Linked DNA regions of Homo sapiens: all the other regions are linked to region 1. The links come from fine-mapping of genetic effects on gene expression. A gene starts in region 1. Each other region holds a variant in brackets. All regions are shown on one strand. Distances are between the middles of the regions. Region 1 holds the start of POFUT3 (protein O-fucosyltransferase 3). Region 2 has its middle 22 kb from the start of SNORD13. Region 3 holds the start of TTI2 (TELO2 interacting protein 2).

What was found. PIP is the estimated chance that this variant, and not a neighbour inherited with it, causes the effect.
Region 2: its variant is fine-mapped to the expression of POFUT3 in whole blood (TOPMed, PIP 0.99).
Region 3: its variant is fine-mapped to the expression of POFUT3 in whole blood (INTERVAL, PIP 0.96).

The regions. Positions count from the first base shown.
Region 1 is chr8:33,468,962-33,476,966 of GRCh38, forward strand. It overlaps POFUT3 (protein O-fucosyltransferase 3), which reads right to left and starts at 4,185. Exons shown (of 5, transcript NM_032664.3): 1 at 4,103-4,185. RefSeq lists silencers at 2,405-2,454, 3,685-3,924, 4,215-4,294 and an enhancer at 3,155-3,364.
Region 2 is chr8:33,531,108-33,539,112 of GRCh38, forward strand. No RefSeq gene overlaps it. Among named protein-coding and RNA genes, the nearest start is that of SNORD13, 22 kb to the left of the region's middle. RefSeq lists a silencer at 6,541-6,741. The variant G/A (reference allele first, on the strand shown) is at 3,858.
Region 3 is chr8:33,511,307-33,519,156 of GRCh38, forward strand. It overlaps TTI2 (TELO2 interacting protein 2), which reads right to left and starts at 1,829. Exons shown (of 8, transcript NM_001102401.4): 1 at 1,776-1,829; 2 at 661-1,406. The coding sequence starts at 1,307. SNORD13 (small nucleolar RNA, C/D box 13) reads left to right here and starts at 2,169; the gene lies at 2,169-2,272. RefSeq lists enhancers at 1,861-2,000, 3,521-3,810 and a silencer at 2,431-2,480. The variant T/C (reference allele first, on the strand shown) is at 2,375.

The DNA.
Region 1 (8,005 bases):
AAGAAATGTATCTAATTATCAAATTTAAAGTATTCACAGTAAAGTGCCATTTATCAATGTGAGGCCGGATGCAGTGGTGCATGCCTGTAATGCCAGCACTTTGGGAGGCCAAGGAGGGTGGATTTCTTGAGGCCAGGAGTTGGAGACAAGCCTGGCCAACATGACAAAACCCCGTCTCTACTAAAAATACAAAAATTAGCTGGGTGTGGTGGTGCGTGCCTATAGCCCCAGCTACTGGGGAGGCTGAGGCAGGAGAATGGCATGAACCCGGGAGGCGGAGTTTGCAATGAGCCGAGATCGCGCCACTGCACTCCAGCCTGGGCTACAGAGCAAGACTCTGTCTCGAAAAAAAAGCAAAAACAAAAACAAAAACAAAAATCTGTGTTAATGTGTACCTCGCTCATTTTCAGTGAACTTCATATTTTGCTGAGCATTTATTTTTATATAAAGCATGCTTTGGATTGTAGATTTCTATGTGGGAAAGTCATCCTCTTCATACTAGTGCAAATTTCAGGAGAGACCAGTAGAGGACAGTAAGGGAGAAAGGCACACTGGCAGTCATGTGAATCAAGACTGGTGATTAATGGGGAAAGAGGTGTAGCCAGAACACCTCTGCACTTCTATTGCAGAAATGAAGGCAATGTCATTCCTCAATCCTTAAATTCCAGACACATACTAAAGTACTTAAATTATGCAGTGTTAATAATACAACCTCACAAGAAAGAGTATTCAGTGGATCTACTTGATGTAGAAACTAAAAACAAATCCAAAAGACAGAGAGCCAGATAAACAGACAGACTGATACAATGCCTCAATTAGAAACACAGATTTTTTACTTTTTCTTTTTTTTTTTTTTTTTTTTGAGATGGAGTCTCACTCTGTCACCAGGCTGGAGTGTAGTGGCACTCACCACAATCTCTGCCTCCCGAGTTCAGGCGATTCTCCTGCCTCAGCCTCCCGAGTAGCTGGGATTACAGGTGTGCACCACCACACCCAGCTAATTTTGTATTTTTAGTAGAGACAGGGTTTCACGATGTTGGTCAGAATGGTCTTAACCTCCTGACCTCGTGATCCACCTGCCTCGGCCTCCCAAAGTGCTAGGATTACAGGTGTGAGCCATGGCGCCCGGCAAGAAGCACAGATTTTTAAAATGGAAAGCTTGGTGTCGTGGCTCATGCCTGCAATCTCAGCACTTTGAGACGCCGAGGTGGGTGGATCACTTAAGCCCAGGAGTTCAAGACCAGCCTAGGCAACACAGCAAGAACCCATCTCTACAAAAAAAAAAAAAAAAAAAAAAAAAAAAAGTTAGCTGGGCATGCTGGTGTGCACCTGTAGTCATAGTCCCAGCTACCAGGAGGCTGAGCAGGAGGATCCCTTGAGCCCTGGAGGTCAAGGCTGCAGTGAGCTGTGATCGTGCCACTGCACTCCAGCCTGGGTGGCAGAGCTAGACCCTGTCTCAAAAATAAATAAAAATTAAAAGTGGGGTGACAGCACAAGACTATGAAGTTTATGTGTCACAGTAAGAACTAAGGCAATTCTTCAAGAGCAGGGATTCTTTTTCATCTTTGTTTTTCCTATGAGGTCTTATACTAATAAGTATTAGTAACTATTCTTCCTCCAAGTAGGGCTTATAGGTTACTTTGTGGCAATTTCCCACCCTACAAGATACTCGAATTAAAATCCCTCATCTCTAGAAAAAATATAAATTAATAAATATTGAATAACTGCAGACTAGAAAAAACAAATAAAATCCCTGATCTGCTTTTATCATTTATATATTCATGAATGAGGAGCTGGTTCAGTAACACTGACAAAATGTAGCTAATATTTCACATGACTAAAGACAAATCCCTGAGGATCTTCTGAGGTTCCATCCCAAAACTAAGCTCTCTCATCCCATAAATTATATCCAGGAGTAAAAACTCTCCATAAAAGATTAATCAAGAGACAGTAATCCAGACAACTTGAGTCATCACAAAGTAAGATTTCCGGAAATTTTTTTTTTAATTGTATATAACAGGTTTAGGATTACTTTATCTTCATTTTCCTTGTTGGTAATTCTGTATAATCTTTTGAAAACTCCAATTTCATTATCAAAGAAAAAAATCTGAAAGACATTTTAAGATAAACTTAACTTCTAAAAATGTTCAAAAACCCATGTTCAGAAACATTGTAACAAATGTTCACTGTAGAATGCTGGTAATTGAATTAGATATTGAATATCTACCCGAAATCAACTCTTTACATTCCGAGGTTGGTTTTTTTGTTTTTGTTTTTTGTTGTTGTTGTTGTTGTTGTTTTGTTTTGAGACAGTCTCGCTCTGTTGCCCAGGCTGGAGTGCAGTGGCGCAGTCTTGGCTCACCGCAACTTCCTCCTTCCAGGTTCAAGTGATTGTTCTGTCTCAGCCTCCCGAGTAGCTGGAACTACACGCACACGCCACCACATGAGCCCAGCTAATTTTTGTATTTTTAGTAGAGACGGGGTTTCACCATATTGGCCAGGCTGGTCTAGAACTCCTGATCTCGTGATCCGCCCGCCTCGGTCTCTCAAAGTTCTGGGATTACAGGCATGAGCCACCGCGCCCGGCCGGCCTACATTCCAAAGTTTAAAGCATTTAAATATGGGTTGGAAATATCTGCCTACTGAACAACATTTGTACATATATAAATAACATTGTTTTTCCAAACTATATTCTTTTTACTTCCTGAATTTAACCATAGTTTGAAATTTTTCAAAAATATTGTTTGTAAGATAAAACTTGAAAACTTACTTTTTTTTCTTATTGTAGAAGACAAGCAATAACAACACAGTAAAAGTTGAGATCGTGTTTTTAATTCACTGTTACACACTGCCATCTAGCAGGAAGCGAGCAAGAGTTATTACAGCAATTTCGAAATTGGAAGACCTGAATGATCACCTGAGGCTACCCAATCGCCTCTGGCTTCTCCTTACTCAGAAGAAAGTTTTAAAACGGAGACTACGGTGCTGCTAGATTGGAGGCAGTGAAACTTCAGCGTTCAAAGAGCTGAGCTGCTTATTCAATGCGAGAAAGGCCTCCATTTGAGACTACGGTAGACCAGGGAGAAACCCTGCCCTAGTTGTAGTGTGACGTTACTAACAAGCCCAAGATTGGTCGTGAGTTTCCTGGGTGTCTCATTGGAAAGAAAGGTGTACGAAGGGAATAAAGTCCTGAAAGCCAACTTGCCTTATTCAAAACTGTGGCCAGCCAGAGCTGGATGCATTCCACAAACTAAATTAACAATCCAAGTCATTTCATGCACAAAACACTCTAACCAACTATTATTGCAGGGAGCTGCAGCAGGGAGCAGGGGGCAGGCTGTTGGGGCCGTGGTGTTAGAAAAAGTCATTCTGTGTGACATTTGCTTTATTTTAAAGAATCATTAAAAGATTCCCAGAAAATGTCATAAAATCACAGAAAAATTACTTCTATAGTTTACAAAAAATGAGCTCTGTTCTGAGGGTACTAATCGGGTGCAAAATACCTAACACATGGCTTGCAAATGGGATAACCCAGGCCTGCGGTTGCCGGTGCTTTCCTGGGGCATTTTCTCCATTAAATACGCCGTATTCTCTGCAACTAGAAAGTCACAGTTGCTACGACTTCAACACAACATTCCTGCAACAAGTGATTCTCTGGGAAGACCTGGGGGAGAACAAGGCAATTCGCGCCCCGCAAAGGCAGATTAGGTTCTGGAATGGACGGCCGCGGACCTGGGGAGGAGGCCGATCGGGGCAGGCGGGGAGGCGCCGGGACCCCGCGCTCCTTCTCCGGGCTCCAGCAGAGGCTCCGGCCCGGCACCCGCCTCCCGCCTGGTGGATCAGGCTTCAATCTCAGGCAGTGGCTCTGCCTTTGCGCCACTAAGTCTCCAAAACAGACTTGGATTATTTTGCACACACCATTCCGTCTCTTACACGCACCCCCTGCTCGGTACAGAGAGGGAGTTTCCTTAGGCTGTGACTCCCGGAGGTAGTGTCCCAGCTTCCGTGGGACCAGAAAAGCGTCTTTCCGTGTCTCAGCATCAAGCCCCTACCCCCACCAAGAGACCACAGAGGCCAGATGTGATGCGGCGCTCGCACTCACCTCGCGCGGAGCAGGGTTCGTCCCGCAGAATGCAGCGCAGCTTCCTTTCTCCCTATGAGCCCAAGCCTGGGCGCCGGGAAGACCCGAAGAGCCGATCAGGAGCGGAAGAGGCGGCCGCGCGGGCGAGCTCGGGGCGCGTTCCGGCGGAGCCAGCCTGGATCCGGGTTTTCACTCGTGCCCTGTTCACAAGCTCTTGGGACCCGGGTTCTAAGAACACCGGGCCGCCCCCTGCTGATGATCTTGGTTCGCAGTCCGCCTGAGGCCACGGCCCTATGGAAAGTTCTCGGGAAGGCTGCGGGGGCCCTCTTCTTTAAGACAGGGGAAACTCTCCGCTTCTCCAACTGGACTAGGACTGGAGCGCATGCAGTCACCTATTCAGGCCAGGCGTGGCAGCGGCTCACACCTGTAATCCCAGCACTTTGGGAGGCCAAGGCGGGCAGATCGCTTGAGCCCAGGAGTTCGATACCAGCCTGAGCAACATAGCGGGACCCTGTCTCTACAAAAAATGCAAAAATTAGCAGAGTGTGGTGGCCCATGCCTGTAGTCCCACCTACTGGGAGGCTGAGGTGGGAGGATCTCTTGAGTCCAGGAGGTAAAGGCTGCAGTTAACCGAGATCAAGCCACTGCACTCCAGCCTGGGCAACAGAGCAAGACTGTCTACAAAAATAAATAAAATAAATTTAAAAAAAAAGGTCAAAGTCATTTATTCAAGAAAAGATTGTACTGGTTGCTATGGTGTGAATGTTTGTACCCTGCCCCAAATTCATATGTGAATTTCGTGCCTTTATAGTCTATATAAATTTACAAATGTACTGTGTCTTTATGAAAGAGACCAGAGCAAGCTTCTGCCATGTGAGGACACATAGAGGGTCTCTTGTATGAGGCACAGACGCTAACAGATGAGGAATCTGCCAGCGTGTTTGTTGATCTTGGACTTCCCATCATCCAGACTGGGAGCAGTGGAGTTCCGTTGTTCATGCATTACCCAAACTAAGGTGTGTTGTGATAGTAGCCCAAACGGACTAGACACTGGTAAAGGAAAGCTAATTGACTTCAAGCTACTGAGTTCCAAATCCAAAAACTCAAATAAAATTATTGTGCCCTAGTCTAGGAGGTAATAAACCTAAGGAGGTAATTCAGCATTTTGGGAGGGGTGGGTCTAGGGCAAGGCAAATGAGGTACTTAGGGCTCAAAATCTGAGGAGGTGCTGACCCTGGGTGTCCTGCAGTGCTGGGTGCACTGCAGAAGCCTGAGAGCGATTTGCTGTTTCGGGCCTGCCTCCCTCTGGTCCCGACCCTGCGGAGCTCTGGTGCCAAGAAACTCAACTTTTCTATGAAAACAGGTTGATAATAATGGTGTCCACATCTAAAAAACATCAAACACACAGAAAAGATTGATAAATTAGATATGATTAAAAGTAAGAAACTCTATTCATCAAAAGACACCATTAAGAAAATAAGAAATGGGTGCAGTGGCTCACACCTGTAATCTCAGCACTTTGGTAGGCTGAGACGAGAGGATCACTTGAGCCCAGGAGTTGGAGACCAGCCTGGACAACATAGGGAGACCCCGTCTCTACGAAAAATTTTTAAAAATTAGCCAGGTGTGGTGGTGCACGCCTATGGTTTCCGCCACTCAGGAGGCTGAGGTGGGAGGATTGCTTGACCCTGGGAGGTCAAGGCTGCAGTGAGTCAGGATTGTGTCACTGCACTCCAGCCTGGGCAACAGGATTAGATCCTGTCTCAAGAAAGAAAAAGAATGAAAACTGATCTACGGAATGAGAGAAGGTATTTTTGATATATTGTATCTAACAATGAATTTAGAATATAACAAGAACTCCTAAAAGCAATAAGAAAGAAAAGCAATCAATAAGTACAGCACTTCACCGAAGACGAATCCAAATAGCCAGGCAGTATGTGAAAAAGATGCTTAATGTTTTTAGTCATTAAAGAAATGCAAATGAACACGATGATGATATATACTACACATCCACTAAAATGGCTACAGATTTTAAAACTGACAAGACAACACAAGGACAAAGCCGTGAAGCACATAGAACTGTTATGCACTATTGTTGGGGGTGCAGTTGTGACAGCCACTTTGGAAAATCATCTGTTCATATTTACTAGAGCTGAATATACACGTTGTGACCCAGAAATTCCTAGGTATAGGCCTAATACACATACCTATATATAAACATCAAAAGGCATGTATACTGGGCCATAAAACACACCTCGGCAGGGCACGGTCGCTTACGCCTATAATCTCAGCACTTTGGGAGGCCAAGGAGGGCGGATCACCTGAGGTTGGGAGAGCGAGACCAGCCTGACCAACATGGAGAAACCCCGTCTCTACTAAAAATACAAAAAAGTTAGCCAGGCGTGCTGTCAGGTGCCTACAATCCCAGCTACTCAGGAGGCTGAGGCAGGAGAATCGCTTGAACCTGGGAGGTGGAGGTTGCAGTGAGCCAAGATAGCGCCATTGCACTCCAGCCTGGGCAACAAGAGCGAAACTCGATTTAAAATAAAAAATAAAAAATAAAAAAAATTTAAAAAAACACACACACCTCAACAAATTTCAAAGAATGGACATCATACAAAGCATGCTATCAGACCACAAAGGAATTAAACCAGAAACCAGTAACTGAATGATAATTAGAAAATCTCCAGATACATGGAGATAAAAACAACACACTTCTATATAGCACATAGATCAAAGAAGAAAACTCGGGCGGGTGTGGTGGCTCACGCCTGTAATTCCAGCACTTTGAGAGGCCAATGTGGGTGGATCACCTGAAGTCAGGAGTTTGAGACCAGCCTGGTCAACATGGCGAAACCCTGACTCTACTAAAAATACAAAAATTAGCCAGGTGTGATGGCAGGCGCCCACAATCCCAGCTACTCAGGAGGCTGAGGCAAGAGAATCACTTGATCCCGGGATGCGGAGGCTGCAGTGAGCAGAGATCACTGCCGCTGCACTCCAGTCTGGGTGACAGAGTGAGACTCCATCTCAAAAAAAAAAGAAAGAAAGAAAATTCAAATTCAAGGTTGGCTCTGCAACTTGTGTTGGCCACAGAATGTAGCAGAAGTGACAGGATGCCATTTCCGGGTCCAGGCCTTAAGTGGCCTAGCATACTTCCACTTATTTTCTTGCCACTCTATGCAACTGCCATGAAACCAACTGCAGAATAGCCTTCTGGGCTATGAGGGATAATGGCTCAGTCACCCCTGTTGCCCCAGTCAATTGCTACCCAACTCTAAGATATGTGAGTGAGGCCATCCTAGACTAATTAGCCTCGAGTCAGTCCACCAGATGACCACAGATATGTGAGCAACCCCAGGTCAGCAGACTACCCACCGACTCATAGAAACACAAACATGAATAAATGCTTACTGTTTAAGCCACTGAGTTTCAGAGGCGTGTGTTATACAGCAATAGCTAACTGATACAGAAATTGGCATCTATGGCCGGATGCGGTGGCTCATGCCTGTAATCCCAGCACTTTGGGAGGCTGAGGTGAGAGGATCACGAGGTAAGGAGATGGAGACCATCCTGGCCAACATGGTGAAACCCCATCTCTACTGAAAATACAAAAATTAGCTGGGTGTGGTGGCGCGCGCCTGTAATCCCAGCTACTCGGGAGGCTGAGGCAAGAGAATCACTTGAACCCAGGAGGCGGAGATTGCAATGAGCTGAGATCATGCCACTGCACTCCAGCCTGGTGACAGAGCAAGACTCTGTCTCAAACAAAAAACAAACAAACAAAAAAAGAAAGTGCCATCTAGAAATGGGATGCTGTTTAACAAAAGCCTAAAATATGTGGCATTGGTTTAGGGACCAAGTCCTGGACAACACTGAAAAAGCAAGAAGCATGCTTGTGTTTGACAGACCTGATGCACTTAC
Region 2 (8,005 bases), 62 kb after region 1:
TCTTTAAAAGCAGAAAAAAATCATAAATTTGTATTAATATTTCCAATTCAGATTTAAGATTTCAGGCTTATACTTCTTTAAAATGAGACTTGTATCTCTCCTCTCTTTTACTGCCCAGGTTGGAGGGCAATGGCACAATCTCGGCTCACTGAAACCTCTGCCTCCCAGGTTCAAGCTATTCTCTTGCCTCAGCCTCCCAAGTAGCTGGGATTACAGGAGCGTGCCACCACGCCCAGCTAATTTTTTTCTGTATTTTTAGTAGAGACGGGGTTTCACTATGTTGGCCAGGATGGTCTCCATCTCTTGACCTTGTGATCCGCCCATCTTGGCCTCCCAAAGTGCTGGGATTACAGATGTGAGCCACCGCGCCCGGCCAAAAATCTTGATTCATAATAACATTAATGTAATTACTTATTTGCTTTATTCTAAAATATACACATAAAGGTATTAAAATAGCAATATTGTTATTACTAAACATAAGATTACCTGGGCGTGGTGGCTCATGTCTGTGATCCCAGTATTTTGGGAGGCTGAGGTGGGCAGATTACCTGAGGTCAGGAGTTAGAGACCAGTCTGGCAAACACTGGTGGAACCCCACCTGTACTAAAAATACAAAAATTAGCCAGGTGTGATGGCATGTGCCTGTAGTCCCAGCTACTTTGTAGGCTGAGGCAGGAGAATCAGTTGAACCCAGGAGGCAGAGGTTGCAGTGAGCCAAGATCGCACCACTGCACTCCAGCCTGGGTGACAGAAAGAGACTCCGACTCAAAGAAAAAGAAAGAAAGAAAAAAACATGAGATTATTGAATATAATTTAAGACTTCTTTGCTATTTGTTTTTGTCTTTAGGGTACACTGAGTAAATAATTGCAATCAGCTGGGCATGGTGGCTCGCTCCTGTAATCCCAGCACTTTGGAAGGTCAAGGCAGGAAGATTGCTTGAGGCCAGGTGTTTGAGACCGGCCTGAGCAACATAGCTAGACCACCCCCACCATCTCTACAAAAAGTAAAATTAGCCAGGTGAGATGGCACATGTCTATAGTCCCAGCTACCTGGGAGGTTGAGGCAGGAGGATCACTTGAGCCCAGGAGGTTGAGGCTGCTTGAGCCATGATTGGGCCACTGCATTCCAGCCTGAGTGACAGAGCGAGGCCCTGTCTCAAATAATAATAATTTCAATCAAATGTTATGTTTCAAGTTACTTGAAATAGGCTTCTTTTCTATATAGCTGTGATATTCATTTTAGATGTCGACTCAACTGGGTCAAGGAATACCCAGATAGCTGGTCAAGGAATACCCAGAAAGCATTATTTCTGGTTATGTCTGTGAGGGTGTTTCCGGAAGAGATTGGCATTTGAATCAGTGATTGAGTAAGGAAGAGCTACCTGATGTGGGCAGGCATCATCTAATTTGTTGAGGGCCTGGATAGAATAACAAGTCAGAGGAAAGTCTAATTCACTCTGTCTTCTGGAGCTGGGACACCCATTTTCTCCTGCCTTTGGACATATGAACTCTAGCTTCTCAGGCCTTCAGACTCTGGGACTTACACCAGGAGCCCACAGGTTCTCAGGCCTTCGGACTCAGACTGAATTATGCCACTGGCTTCCCTGGTTCTCCAGCTTGCAGATGGTATATCATGGGGCTTCTCAGCCTCCATAGTCATGTGAACCAGTTCCCCTAATACATCCCCTCTTATCTACCTATCTGGAAAATTCTGACTTATACAATGGCTATGTGAGGACCTTGATATACGTTTATATGCATTTTTGTTTCTTTTCAATTTTCTAGGAATGGCTTGTCTCTTCTCATATATTATTATTTTTCTTTGTAGAGATAGGGTCTTGCTGTGTTGCCCAGGCTGATCTTGAATTCCTGGTCTCAAGTGATCCTCCTGCCTCAGCCTCCTAAAGTGCTGGGATTACAGGCATGAGCCAGTGTATCCTGCTCATTCACTGTTCAACACACTCAATTTTTCCTTCACCCCATGAATCCAGCAAAACTGCTTTTGCTCAGGCCCCCAGTAGCCTCCTCATTGCCAAATTCAATGGAGTGAAGTGGTATGCCCTCGACTCACTGCAACCTCCGCCTCCTGGGTTCAAGCACTTCTCGTGCCTCAGCCTCCCAAGTAGCTGGGATTACAGGTGTGCACCACACACCTGGCTAATTTTTGTATTTTTAGTAGACATGGGGTTTCACCGTGTTGGCCAGGCTGGTTTTGAACTCCTGACCTGAGGTGATTGGCCTACCGGGGCCTTCCAAAGGGCTGGGATTACAAGCATGAGATAATGCGCCCGCCCTGCCCGGCTCATTCTTTTTTTTTTTTTTTTTTTTTTTTTTGAAACAAAGTCTTACTTTGTTACAGTAGGTAGCTGGTCAGGCATGAGCAGGGCAGGAGAGGGCTCCGCCCAACACACACAAATATCAGGAATATCAGGCAACCATCAGGTGATGATCAGGCAGTTGTTAACTGTCTTTCTAAAATAGTAATTGGTCACAGCCAGTGCCAGGGAAAGGCAGTGTCCTAATACATGGAAAACACATGAAATGTGATCAGTGGCTTCTTGAGAAGACCTCAGGGGTTGGGCAAGTGGGCTCAGGAATGTGCCTGCAGACAGCCCACCCCAAGGGATGAATCAGGGGAGAAGTAACAAGACCGCAGAAGCATGCCAGCGTATAAAACCCCAAGTCAAAAGGTCAAACCGCACACTTGTCTTTCAAGTCACACACTTGGTCCTCGTCCAAGTGTAGGTTCTTTCCCTCCTTTTATTCCTGCTCTAAAGCTTTTCAATAAACTTTCACTCCTGCTCTAAAACTTGCCTTGGTTTCTCCTTTTGCCTTAGGTCCCTCGGTTGAATTCTTTCTTCTGAGGAAGCAAGATTTGAGGTTGCTGCAGACCCCTACAAATTGGCCTTGTCTAACATATTTTGGTGCCATGTGACTCGGATACCTTCCACCAGTAACAACTCTGTTGTCCAAACTAGGGTGCAGTGGCGCAACCATGGCTCACTGCAGCCTTGACCTCCCAGGTTCAAGGGAGCGATCCTCCTACCTTAGCCTCCTGGGCAGCTAGGACTATAGGCACATGGCCCAATGCCTGGCTAATTTTTTGTATTATTTTATATATATATATATATATATATATATATATATATATATATATACACACATATATATATATATATATATATATATATGTATATGTATATTTTGTAGAGATGGGGGTTTCACCATGTTGCCCAGGCTGGTCTTGAACTTCTGGCCTCAAGCGATCCTTCTGCCTCAGCCTTCCAAAGTGCTGGGATCACAGGCATGAGCCACTGTGCCCGGCCTATTTTCCATGAGCCACTGTGCCCGGCCTATTTTCCATTCTGGTACACAATTCCATTTCCAATAAAAACTTAACCCAGATAATGTCACTTTTCTGCTACAGTCCTATTATCAAAAGTTAGAATTCCCTAACATGGCTACTAGGCCCTCCCTGATCTGCTGCTGTGTCTCTTTGACCTCATTTGTACCTCCCTTCCCCATCTCTCACTAAGCTTAATTACATGGGATGTGTTCACCAACAGCCCAAGCTCTATTCTCTCTCAATTTCTTTTCTTTTCTTTTCTTTTCTTTTCTTTTTTGTGAGATGAAGTTTTGCTCTTGTTGCCCAGAATGGAGTGCAATGGTGTGATCTCGGCTCACTGCAACCTCCGCCTCCCAGGTTCAAGCGATTCTTCTGCCTCAGCCTCCCGAGTAGCTGGGACTACAGGCGCCTGCCACCACGCCTGGCTAATTTTTTTGTATTTTTAATAGAGATGGGGTTTTGCCATGTTGGCCAGGCTGGTCTTGAACGCCTGACCTCAGGTGATCCGCCC[G/A]CCTGGCCTCCCAAAGTGCTGGGATTACAGGCGTGAGCCACCACCCCCGGCCCTCAATTTCTTTCTTTTTTTTTTTTCCTCAATTTCTTACATACACTCTTCTGTCTGGCCTTTCCCTACCTCTTGTCATTCTTGTGCTCTGAGCTTAAATGTCTCTTGCTCAGAAAAGACCTTCCTTGTCCATCCCTCTCCTCTGGTTTTACGAAGGTAGTCACTGGATACCTTACGATGGTTGGTCCATGTATTAAATATATGAGTATGCTTGTTTAGGCTTCATCTCCCCCATTAGACTGTAAACATCTTGGGAGTAGGAGCCATTTTGGTCTTGCTCATTGGCACAATGCCTGGCATGTAGTAGGCACTCAATATGTGTTGGCTGTTTAATAAGTTTGAGAAGTTTGATTCTAAGTACAATCATCCACATCAGACTTCTCTACAAATTGTATATTCAGTGGGCATCAGCTCTGCCCAGTGAAAGAAAGCAAACCCGGAATGCAGTGCTTGTGACTTAGTACAGGCTCAGTAAGGGACAGCTGTATTAATTGGGATAATGGCAGGGGAGGGATATACACAAACTTCCTTATTTCTTACAGACTTTTCACTTAGTCCCCTTGTTTAGTTGCATGGCTTCCTATGACCTTATTTTATTTATTTTTATTTTATTTTATTGATTCATTTTTTTTTGAGACAGAGTCTCGCTTTGTCACCCAGGCTGGAGTGCACTGGTGCAATCTCGGCTCACTGCAACCTCTGCCTCCCAAATTCAGGTGATTCTCCTGCCTCAGCCTCCTGAGTAGCTGGGACTACAGGCGCATGCCACCATGCCCGGCTAGTTTTTGTATTTTCAGTAGAGACGGGGTTTCACCATGTTGGCCAGGATGGTCTCGATCTCCTGACCTCGTGATCCACCCGCCTCAGCCTCCCAAGGTGCTGAGATTACAGGTGTGAACAACTGCGCCCTGCCCCCTGTGACTTTAGAAACAAAAATAGCATGACTTCAAGTCTTTCATATACACTTTTTTATGTACTCTTCTTAATCACACTCTGAGGCAGTTACTATATCTCCATTTTACAGAGGAGAAAAAGGAGGCTTAGAGAGATTAAGGAACTAGGCTGAGGTCTCCTGGCTAATTAGAGGCAGAGCTGGGTTTAAAACCCATTCTTTGAATTCCAGGGCTAGCTTTGTTTATTCCACACTACAAATTAATCTCATAATGAGGCGTAGAAGGGAAAGATCCCATGTTTTCCCAAACACAGCCACATTTCATCACTGACTCTTGTCAGTGAACCTTTTGTTCCTCAAATACTAGGAACAAAAATCATTCATTTGGAACTGTTCTTTCTTCCTCTGTACGTGCTTCGTGCATTTCTCTTTGTAAACAAGACTTTAAATAAATTACTTCTAGGCCAGGAGCAAGGGCTTATGCCTGTAATCCCAGCAATCTGGGAGTCCAAGGCAGGAGCATCACTTGAGGCCAGGAGTTTGACACCAGCCTGGGCAAAAAATCGAGACCCCCATCTCTACTAAAAAATAATAATAAGAAGAAAACCAAAGAAATTACTTCTAATTGTTTTATTCTATAGGCACATCTCACTTAAACTTATTTACATGCAGATCTTAGTGTTTTAAAGTCTATAAATTAAGTAAAAAACTCCTTAAGTCTCATTTTAGAGAGGTTTTAGTTGTAAAAAGGCTCGACATAGACTTCTTTAGATAATGAAAACCCCTGGCATGTTTCAGGCAATTATTCAATTCAATGTGCACAGCTTCCAGAACACAGAATGCAGAGATGCCCAGAATTAATGGTCTGGCAGCAAGTCTGTTTCTCATGTTTTCCAATCTGAATGTATAAATTTTTAATCTTACAAACCTGTAATGAATGTGTTGGATTACTGTCTTTGCTCTATTGTCAGCATATAAAGAGACTCAGCTTCTTGGCAGAATGATTAAGTTAAGGATATTGCATTCTAACCACAAGGAAACACAGATCTCCTCCTTGTCAGCATTCTTCCTTCCAAAAAGGTTGCTTAAAGTGGTGCTTAAAAGATAATTCTATCCTAAAACACAGTGACTTAGGAAAAAAAAAAAGAGAGAAATAAATAAAGATAATTCTAGCTTACTAAATTTAGGGTGTGGAAAAAGTCCAAAATGAGAATATTCACTGGGTAATTGTGCAAGGAATGTTAATATGTGTGATAAAGGGAGGGTATTCTACCCACCTGATGCTTGCCTCTGCACCCTCCCCCCCACTTCCGTTTTGCCTTGACATACAACATACAATTTATCAAGGTTAAAAGTTAAATGAGGGCCAGGCGTGGTGACTCATCCTGGTAATCCCAGCACTTTGGGAGGCCGAGGCAGGTGAACTGCTTGAGCCCAGCCTGGGCAACATGGCAAGACCCTGTCTCGATAAAAAATATAAAAAAATTAGCTGGCTGTGGTGGTACAAACCTGTAGTCCCAGCTACTTGGGAGGCTGAGGTGCGAGGATCACCTGAGCCCAGAAGGTCGAGGCTGCAGTGAGCCATGACTGTGCCACTGCACTCCAGAGCCTCGGTGACAGAGTGAGACCCTATGTTACTCTGTTCTCATGCTGCTATGAAGAATAACCCGAGACTGGGTTATTTATAAAGGAAAGAGGTTTAATTGACTCACAGTTCTGCATTGCTGGGGAGGCCTCAGGAAACTTACAATCATGGCAGGAGGCAAAGGAAAAGCAGGCACCTTCTTCACAGGACAGCAGGACGGACAGAGTGAGTGCAAGCACGGGAAATGCCAGACGCTTAAACAACCATCAGATCTCGTGAGACTCACTATCATGAGAACAGCATGGGGGAACCACCCCCATGATCCAATTACCTCCACTTGGTCCTGCCCTTGACACACGGGGATTATGGGGATTATAGGGGTTACAATTTAAGATGAGATTTTAGGTGGGGGAGCAGCCAAACCATATCAGATCATGTCTCAACGAAAAAAAAAAAAGAAAGAAAGAAAAGCTAAGTGAGGCAGTCAACTCTTTGTCACTGCCACCACATTTTAAATATGAAATAGGCTGTGTGCGGTGGCTCATGGCTATAATCCCAGCACTTTGGGAGGCCAAGATGGGTGGATCACCTGAAGTCAGGAGTTCGAGACCAGCCTGGCCAACATGATGAAACCCTGTCTCTACTAAAAATACAAAAATCAGCTGGGTGTGGTGGCAGGCGCCTGTAATGCCAGCTACTCGTGAGGCTGTGGTAGGAGAATTGCTTGAATCCAAGAAGCGGAGGTTGCAGTGAGCTGAGATCATGCCATTGTACTCCAGCCTGGGTGACAAGAGTGAAACTCTGTCCCTGCCATACCAAATAAATAAATAAATACATAAATATGAAGTGATTTCATATCTGAGTTATTCCTTTTTTTTTTTTTTTTGGGACAGGGTCTCACTCTTTTGCCCAGGCTGGAGTGCAGTGGTGTGATCATAGCTCACTTGTAGGCTCAACCTCCTGAGCTCAATCAGTTCTCCCATCTCAGCCTCCTGTGTAGCTGGGTCCATGGGCCCACCACACCCAGCTCACCTTTGTTTAAATTTTTTGCAGGCATGGGGGTCTCACTATGTTGCTCAGGCTGGTCTCAAACTCCTGGGCTCAAGTGATCCTCCCACCTTGGCCTCCCAAAATGCTGGGATTACAGTCGGGAGCCACCACACCCACCCATATAGCTGAGTTATTCCTGAAACCACCCTGAAGTCAGAGCTACTCTTCAAAAATCTGTCAGCAAGTTCTCTGCTCATCTTCATATTCAAGGCAGATTTCTAGTCATCCTCAGTTAACTCACAAAAAGAGAAGCTAGCAGCACAAGTTAATATAAGAAGCTTACTGGTATCTGCTTTGAAATGCATTTTTTTTTTTTTTTGTGACAGGGTCTCACACTGTCACCCAGTGTCTGTGCCTTTGACACTTCAGTAAGCTTCCTGCACTTGACATTAGGCACGAAGGGTGACAGATAGGGGCGGGGCCAGAAAAGGTGCCCAGGAGACCAGCAGCTTAGTGGTTAAATGGTGTGTACAGAAGGATGGCTGGGTAGTGTTGATCTGTGTGACTCTGAGGTACATGAATATTTATGGAAAGAAAGACAGCATTGCAGACAGGGTATGGATTTCCCAT
Region 3 (7,850 bases), 42 kb after region 1:
TGCTGGGACTACAGGAGTGAGCCACCTCGCCCGGCCACATTTTGTAATTATTAACTCCAAGTAAGTGGGACAGAATTTCCAATTTTCCTAGGCAGTCGTCCTAAGGGCTGGAAAGAGCATTGGACAACTGAGCCCGAACATCTCAGTTATGACCTCCAATTTGCCACTATCCAGTTATGTCATTTATAGCAAATCACAACGTTTCTGGGCCTTAAGAGATCCGTGGTTACAGCACCCTTATTTTACTGCTGAAGAAATTGAGCTTCCTTTGAGGTATAACGCTATAAAAAATTAAGCTAGGGCAGGCGCAGTGGCTCACGCCTGTAATCCCAGCATTTTGGGAGCCCGAGGCGGGTGGATCACTTGAGGTCAAGAGTTCAAGACCAGCCTGGCCAACATGGTGAAACCCCGTCTCTACTAAAAATACAAAAAATCAGCCAGGCGTGGTGACGGGCAACTGTAATCCCAGCTACTCCGAAGGCTGACACAGGAGAATCGCTTGAACCCAGGAGGCGGAGGTTGCAGTGAGCTGAGATCGCAACATTGCACTCCACCCTGGGCAACAAGAGTGAAACTCTGTCTCGAAAATAAATAAATAATAAAAAATAAAAATAAAAAACTGTGAGGCTCAAGTCGGTGGCAAAGGGCAGGAGTACTCACTTATACAAGTCGGGTTTGAGAAGCCCTAGTATCACCGAAAGTCTCCCTTTCTCATCTTCATTTTCTCCATGTAGGAATCCTGCCACAGAACCGCATTCAGTAACTTGAAGCAGTGAGGTGAGCACCTCCCTAGCAACTTCCCGAGATCTCGGAGTGGTCCATGGTTGCTCCAAGCTGTGTGTGATGGCAAAAATATAAACGGGTCCTGCCAAGTGATGCAGGCCCGTCTGCCATGCAGGGCCGACCAGGGAATTCTTAGCAGTCTCAACTTTCCCTAACAGTTTAAGAAACAGTAACCCAACTTGGGCTGCTTTCTCGGCCGCTTCGGAGTGCCCATCACCTCCACCTTCCTCCTCCTTGGAGGGGGCTGCATACTTCTCCAGGGCTTTTGCTACCTGCCCCAGTGTCTCCGGCATTCCGCGGAGCCGTGCACCAGTCCCCTCAAATAACCTATCAAATTCTGTGGCTTCTATTAGATCACCGAGGTCTTTAAGAACTGCATCTTTTACATTGCCTCGTCGTGCCTCCGGGCGGGCAAGACAGTGTAAAATCTTGGAGAAGGCCTGTCCAAAGGCGGAGTGAGACAACTCCTCGGACAAATTAGAGTCTTCCTGCGATGGGGCTTCCAGAGCGCTGTCAAGCTCCATTCCTGACTGCAGCACCAGAAGGCTGGTCTCTCCCACAGAACGAGGATGGAGGCGGGGAGGGATCCGTTGAAGAGGGAAGGAGCGATCACCCAAAGAGAACTAAAATCAAATAAAATAAAACAGAGAGATGTCTTGGAGGAGGGGGCGAGTCTGACCGGGATAAGAATAAAGAGAAAGGGTGAACCCGGGAGGCGGAGTTTGCAGTGAGCCGAGATCGCGCCACTGCACTCCAGCCTGGGCGACAGAGTGAGACTCCGTCTCAGTAAAAAAAAAAAAAAAAAAAAGAATAAAGAGGAAAGGACGCAAGAAAGGGAAAGGGGACTCTCAGGGAGTAAAAGAGTCTTACACTTTTAACAGTGACGTTAAAAGACTACTGTTGCCTTTCTGAAGACTAAAAAGAAAAAAAACTTAAAAATTTAAAGAAATAAACTTCTGAGCCATGTCACCAACTTAACCACCCCCAGGTACCTGCAACGGCTCGCGCCCGCCGGTGTCTAACAGGATCCGGACCTAGCTCATATTGCTGCCGCAAAACGCAAGGCTAGCTTCCGCCAGTACTGCCGCAACACCTTCTTATTTCACGACGTATGGTCGTAAAGCAATAAAGATCCAGGCTCGGGAAAATGACGGAGAGGTGGAACTATAGAGAATAAATTTGCATATATAATAATCCGCTCGCTAATTGTGTTTCTGTTTTCCTTTGCTAAGGTAGAAACAAAAGAATAATCACAGAATCTCAGTGGGACTTTGAAAATATCCAGGATTTTATACGTGAAGAATGGATGTATCGCATTACGGTAGTCACCCTATGTGTAAATTAGTGGCACATACTTGGCACTCCTTAATGTCAACTATAAGATGATCCTTTTGTAGTTCATGAGCGTGATGATTGGGTGTTCATACGCTTGTGTGAGATGTGCCACCCTTGAACCTTGTTACGACGTGGGCACATTACCCGTCTGACCTGAACTTCAAGGATCGATTTAACACTTGTATTTGTGGGCTTGTTACTTATGATAACAGGTGGCCTAGTTTCATGGCTTTGTGTTTACCGTTTTCGGGTGCCC[T/C]TTTTTCTGGCTGTATGCTACACGCACGGGTGCTTTTCCGTTGTCCAACTGTGTAATGTGTTTTTGTGTTTGTTCTTTTGTGAGTCGGAGTCTCGCGTTGTCGCCAGGCTGGAGTTGCAGTGTTGCGATCTCGGCTCACTGCAACCCCCACCTCCGGTTTTCGAGAGATTGTCCTACCTCAGCCTCCCGAGTAGCTGGGACTATAGGCGCGCGCCACCACGCCCAGCTAATTTTTGTATAAATATTGGCAAGGATGGTCTCGATCTCTTGACCTCGTGATGCGCCCGCCTCGGCCTCCCAAAGGGCTGGGATTACAGGCGTGAGCCACCGCGCCTGGCCAATGCAGAGCTTTTTAATGGCTTTAATTTTTTAGGTTTGGGAGATACCTGCGCAGGTTTGTTACCTGGATATGTTGTGGGATGCTGGGATTTGGAGTGCAGCTTAGCCCGTTTTCATTGCCCCCTCTAGTAGACCACAGTGTCTGTTGTTGCCACTTTTATGTCCACGTGTTCCTAATGTTTAGCTCCCACTTATGAATGAGAGCATGCGGTATTTGGTTTTCTGTTCAATGCAATACTTTAGCTGGTTTCTGGAGCTAGCGTTTTAAAGCCTGTAGCCACAAGCGTTTGAAAATTCAAATTCTAGCGTCAAGGTAGAAGCCCCCAGCTGGCGTCTGGGGCAGCCCTGAGGGAGGTGGGTCGTCGGGTTGGCGGATCCGGCTTGGGCCCGCCCCGCCAGTGTCGGCGCCGGGTGCGCAGGGACAGCAGAGCGCTGTCTTGGGCATGGGTCGCAGGCGGCGCCCGGAACGGGCCAGGGGAGCTGGAGGCTGCAGACTCGGGCTCGGCGGGTGTAGGAACCAGTGGTGTTTGCTTGGGTTTTGAGAAGGCGCGAGAAGGGTCGCGCCTGTGCGACCGCCCTGTGTTGGGTCCCCCACGCCGCGTCGGCATTGCTTGTTCCCTCTTCCTGCGCTTTCCTGGAGGGTAGAATTGCGTCCGATTGGCCTTCAGTTCCCGAGGAGCTGCTTCCATTTAGGACCTTGTGACTCTCATAGCTTCCACGGTTTCGCAGGAGCCCGAGGAGGCAAACTTCATTTGTGCCACTGCACAGGCGGGAGCTTCGGACCCTGGGAGGGGTGGCGCGAGAGAGACGTGTCGCCAGCTGCTCGGAGAGGGACTCTTATTCAGCCTCTAAGGCGTCAATTGCGCCTCCAGGGTTCCAGGAGTCCAGAGAAAGCCCTTCGGGGTCTTCTGACCTGGGGTAGGGTGAGGGGCGTGTGTGCGCGCAGGGGCGAGGGAGGGGTGACGTGTCAGGTGTCCTTTGTCCTCGCGAGGAGGTGGTTATGGGGTAGAGGGACATACAGTATTTTCGTCCCACCTTGGGGAGCGCACCAGCTTCTTGGTGCACTACTTGCAACTGTCCCATCTGCGGTGTCTTGCTGCCTACTCGCCTGCCCTTCTTTCCATTTTGCTGTCTGACCTTGGGCAAAAGTTCGGTAGCCTCTCTGTGCCTTCATTTCTTTTTATTTTTTATTTAATTAAAAAATATTTTTTTAGAGACAGGGTCTTGCTCCGTGGCCCAGGCAGGAGTGCAGTGGCGTCATCGTATCTCACTGCAGCTTCAAACTCCTGGGTTCAAGCGATCCTCCCGCCTCAGTCTCCCAGTAACTGGGACCACAGGCGCGCCCTACCACACCCTACTAATATTTTCTAATTTTTTTGTAGAAATGGGGTCTCGCTGTATTACCCAGGCTAATCTCGAGCTCCTGGCCTCGCGATCCTCCCTCCTTGGCCTCCTAAAGCGCTTAGATTACAGGTGTGAACCACCCACCTCGCTGGTGCCTTAATTTTTTTTTTCTTTTTCTTTTATTTTTCCTTCCTTCCTTCCTTCCTTCCTTCCTTCCTTCCTTCCTTCCTTCCTTCCTTCCTTCCTTCTTCCTTCTTCCTTCTTCCTTCTTTCTTTTCTTTCTTGTCTCCCTGTCGCCCAGGCTGGAGTGCAGTGGTGTGATCTTGGCTTATAGCAACCTCTGCCTCCCAGGTTCAAGCGATTCTCATGCCTCAGCCTCTCGAGTAACTGGGATTACAGGCACCCACCACGCCCAGCTAATTTTGTATTTTTACCAGACACGGAGTTTCACCATGTTGGCCAGGCTGGTCTCTAAATCTTGACCTCAAGTTATCCACCTGCCTTGGCTTCCCAAAGTGCTGTGATTACAGGCGTGAGCCACCTCGCCCAGCCACCTTAATTTCTTTATCGGAAAAATGCAGGTAGTAATAATTCGTACCACTTAGGAGTGTTGTGAGAAAGGAATTATATGTAAACTGCTTAGAACAATATCTGGTCAGCAGAAAGTTCTACATAGGTGTTGGCTCATGTTAAACCACAGCTCCTGTGTTGTTACATTTCCTCTTTCCAGGGTAATTTTGTGGTTAGGACCCTCCCTCTCGGCCTCTTTCATTCAGCTTTCCCTTCTCTGACCAATTGGTGGCACTCATGATTTTTTAAGCAATTTCAACCACTGGTAACCATCTCCTCCCGAGGGGACTCTCCTGTTTGCAGGCCCAAGTGGAAGCAAGATGCCAATAAATAGACAGTTATTGTGTCCCTCCTGTGTGCAAGCGTCTCTTCCCTGTTCCATGTGCCCCTTGTGCTAAGTGGACCCAAGCTATTACTTCTTATAAGGAAAGCACTTGTATTGTGGAGATCTCCCCATCTGCACTTCTGAGTTTCCTGAAGCCAGAGACCACGTCTTTATTCCCAGTGCCTGGCACAATTTGGTCATGCAATAAATGTTTGTTGAACCCACACATCCATCCACAGAGGACTGGCTGAATAAACTATGTATATCCACACAATGCAGTTTTATGCCGCTGCACAGAGGAAAGAGAACCATCTCTGTGGACTGCCTTGGAAATCTAGGATGTATTGTTAAGTGAAAAAAGCAGGACAGAGACCATGTGTATGTTGCCTTTATTTTTATTTTTCCCCCTTTTCACACGTGTTGAAATGCTGCCTTTCTTGTAAGAAAGATGGGAAAATAGAAATAATGATGTGTGCATTTGCTTACATGTTAAAGATGCAATAGAGTGTAAATTATAAACTAAGAAAAATGGTTATAGGTAAGAAAAGAACGGGGTGAAGGAAATAGGAATGGAAGCTAGATTTCTCTGTATACACTGTGTTTAATAGCTTCAACTTTGGATTCATGTAAATTTTTTTGTTGTTGTTGAGATAGAGCCTCACTCCAGTCCAGGCTGGAGTGCAGTTGTGCGATCTCGGCTCACTGCAGCCTCTGCCACCCCGGGTTCAAGTGATTCTCCTGCCTTAGCCTCCCAAGTAGCTGGGATTACAGGCGCCTGCCACCACACACGCCTGATTTTTGTATTTTTGGTAGAGATGGGGTTTTACCATGTTGGCCAGGCTGGTCTGCAGCTCATGACCTCACGTGATCCACCTGCCTCGGCCTCCCAAATTGCTGGGATTACAGGCATGAGCCACCGCACCCGGCCACATAATTTTTATTTTTTTTTGAAGCAACAAAAGCAGAGACGTATTGAAAATGAAAGTATACTCCTCAGGGCAAGAGTGGGCCAAAGCAAGCAGCTCAAGAGCCTACATAACTATTTTTTTAAAAGAAAATAACAAAGCATTTCCTAAAAGAAAAGAAATAAAGAGTACATTGAGTCACTGGCATAACCACACAAATTAACTGTAAAACTCATTAATTTGACTCTATATCCTTAGTGTGACAAAGCCTAAAATCAGAAAAAAATCAACTGCATTTAATAATGGTATACTGTTGGTAATATTAATATTGTTTAGGTGTGTTTCTTTTGGGTTTGTTTATTTGTTTTTTGAGACAGAGTCTCCCTCTTTCGCCCAAGCTGGAGTGCAGTGGTGCGATCTCGGCTCAGTGCGACCTCTGCCTCCTGGGCTCAAGTGATTCTCCTGCCTCAGCCTCCCAAGTAGCTGGGATTACAGGCATGTGCCACCTTGCCCAGCTAATTTTGTATTTTTAGTAGAGACGGGGTTTCACCACGTTGGCCAGGCTGGTCTCGAACTCCTTACCTCAGGTGATCCACCTGCCTCGGCCTCCCAAAGTGCTCGACCCACCGCGCCTGGCCTGTTTAGGTGTTATTACATGTATTTTGTATAACTTATATATGTATATAAGATAACAAGTAACAATATTATTAGAAACCCAGATTTTCAATGAAAGATAAAAGAGATACTAGTATCAAATCAATTAAGTTAGCTATAAATTCTGTAATCTGATTGAGTCACATATTTGAGTAAACAAATCTGTAATCTGAAATTAGAATTGGCAATGTTGGTATGAATTTATATATGTATATATACACATATACATACATATATATACACACACATATACATATATATATCCCAGTTGTGTCCACTGAAAGGCCAAGAAGAATGACAGTCTAATGGCTGTGAGCACCTGGATGTCCAAATTTGTAGTTTAAATGCCATTTCCCACTAAAAGGAACCAGTGAGGCTTTAGGAAATGATTGATTTCAGAACTAGGGCAGGAATTACACAAGGTGGGCCTGTGGCATTTTGTTATGCCTGAAAGCAAGGTAGCTATTAAATACTGCTGAGGTGATGTGAAAACAAAAACAAAAACAAAAACAACCCAAGGCCCTATAGCTCACGGATTACAGCACTGGTCTTGTAGAGGAGTAATGACTGTAATGAATTAAAACAAATATATACAAATCCATGAGTTCATAATGATACTAAAAAAAATCACTAATCATTCATCTTTGGATCACTTAAGAAAACAAATGTTTATTTTGAGAATTGATATATAAAGGAAAAAAATCAAGCATTTATTCTTCTGTCTATTCGAGGGTACCCAAATCATTCGTAAGGGTCATAAATGCAACAAAATGGTAGAATTAGAAAGTCACTATTCACACCTCCTAATGAAACATTGAGACAAGGCAACTATCATCCATTGTGATTACAATTATGAGGTGAAGGTTGATGGGGAACTTTATAACTGAACTACTGATTTATCGAACATCACTAAAAGCAAGGCAGCCAGGCACCTCTTAATGGAATAAGGTAGGAAGTACACACCACCTATGAAATATTTTTGCCCAAAAATGGACCCTAAATCTAATCAAATTTTTAGGTCTACTACCAAATGACAAGAAACATGAAGGGCAAAGAAACAAAAGACGCCAACAAATTCCACTGATATATTCAAGGAAAGATAAATAAATAAATAAATAAATTTTTTAAAGACACCAAGATGATATAATCAGTCAAGCCAAGGATGAGAACTGATATAGATTAAAAGTTCTAAAATATTCTCAACTAACAATGTTGCATATTCTTTCTTTCTTTCCTTTTTCTTTCTTTCTTTCTTTCTTCTTTCTCTCTCTCTCTCTCTTTCTTTCTTTTTTACAGGCAAGGTCTAGCTTTCTTGCCATGTCAACCTCCCAAAGTGCTG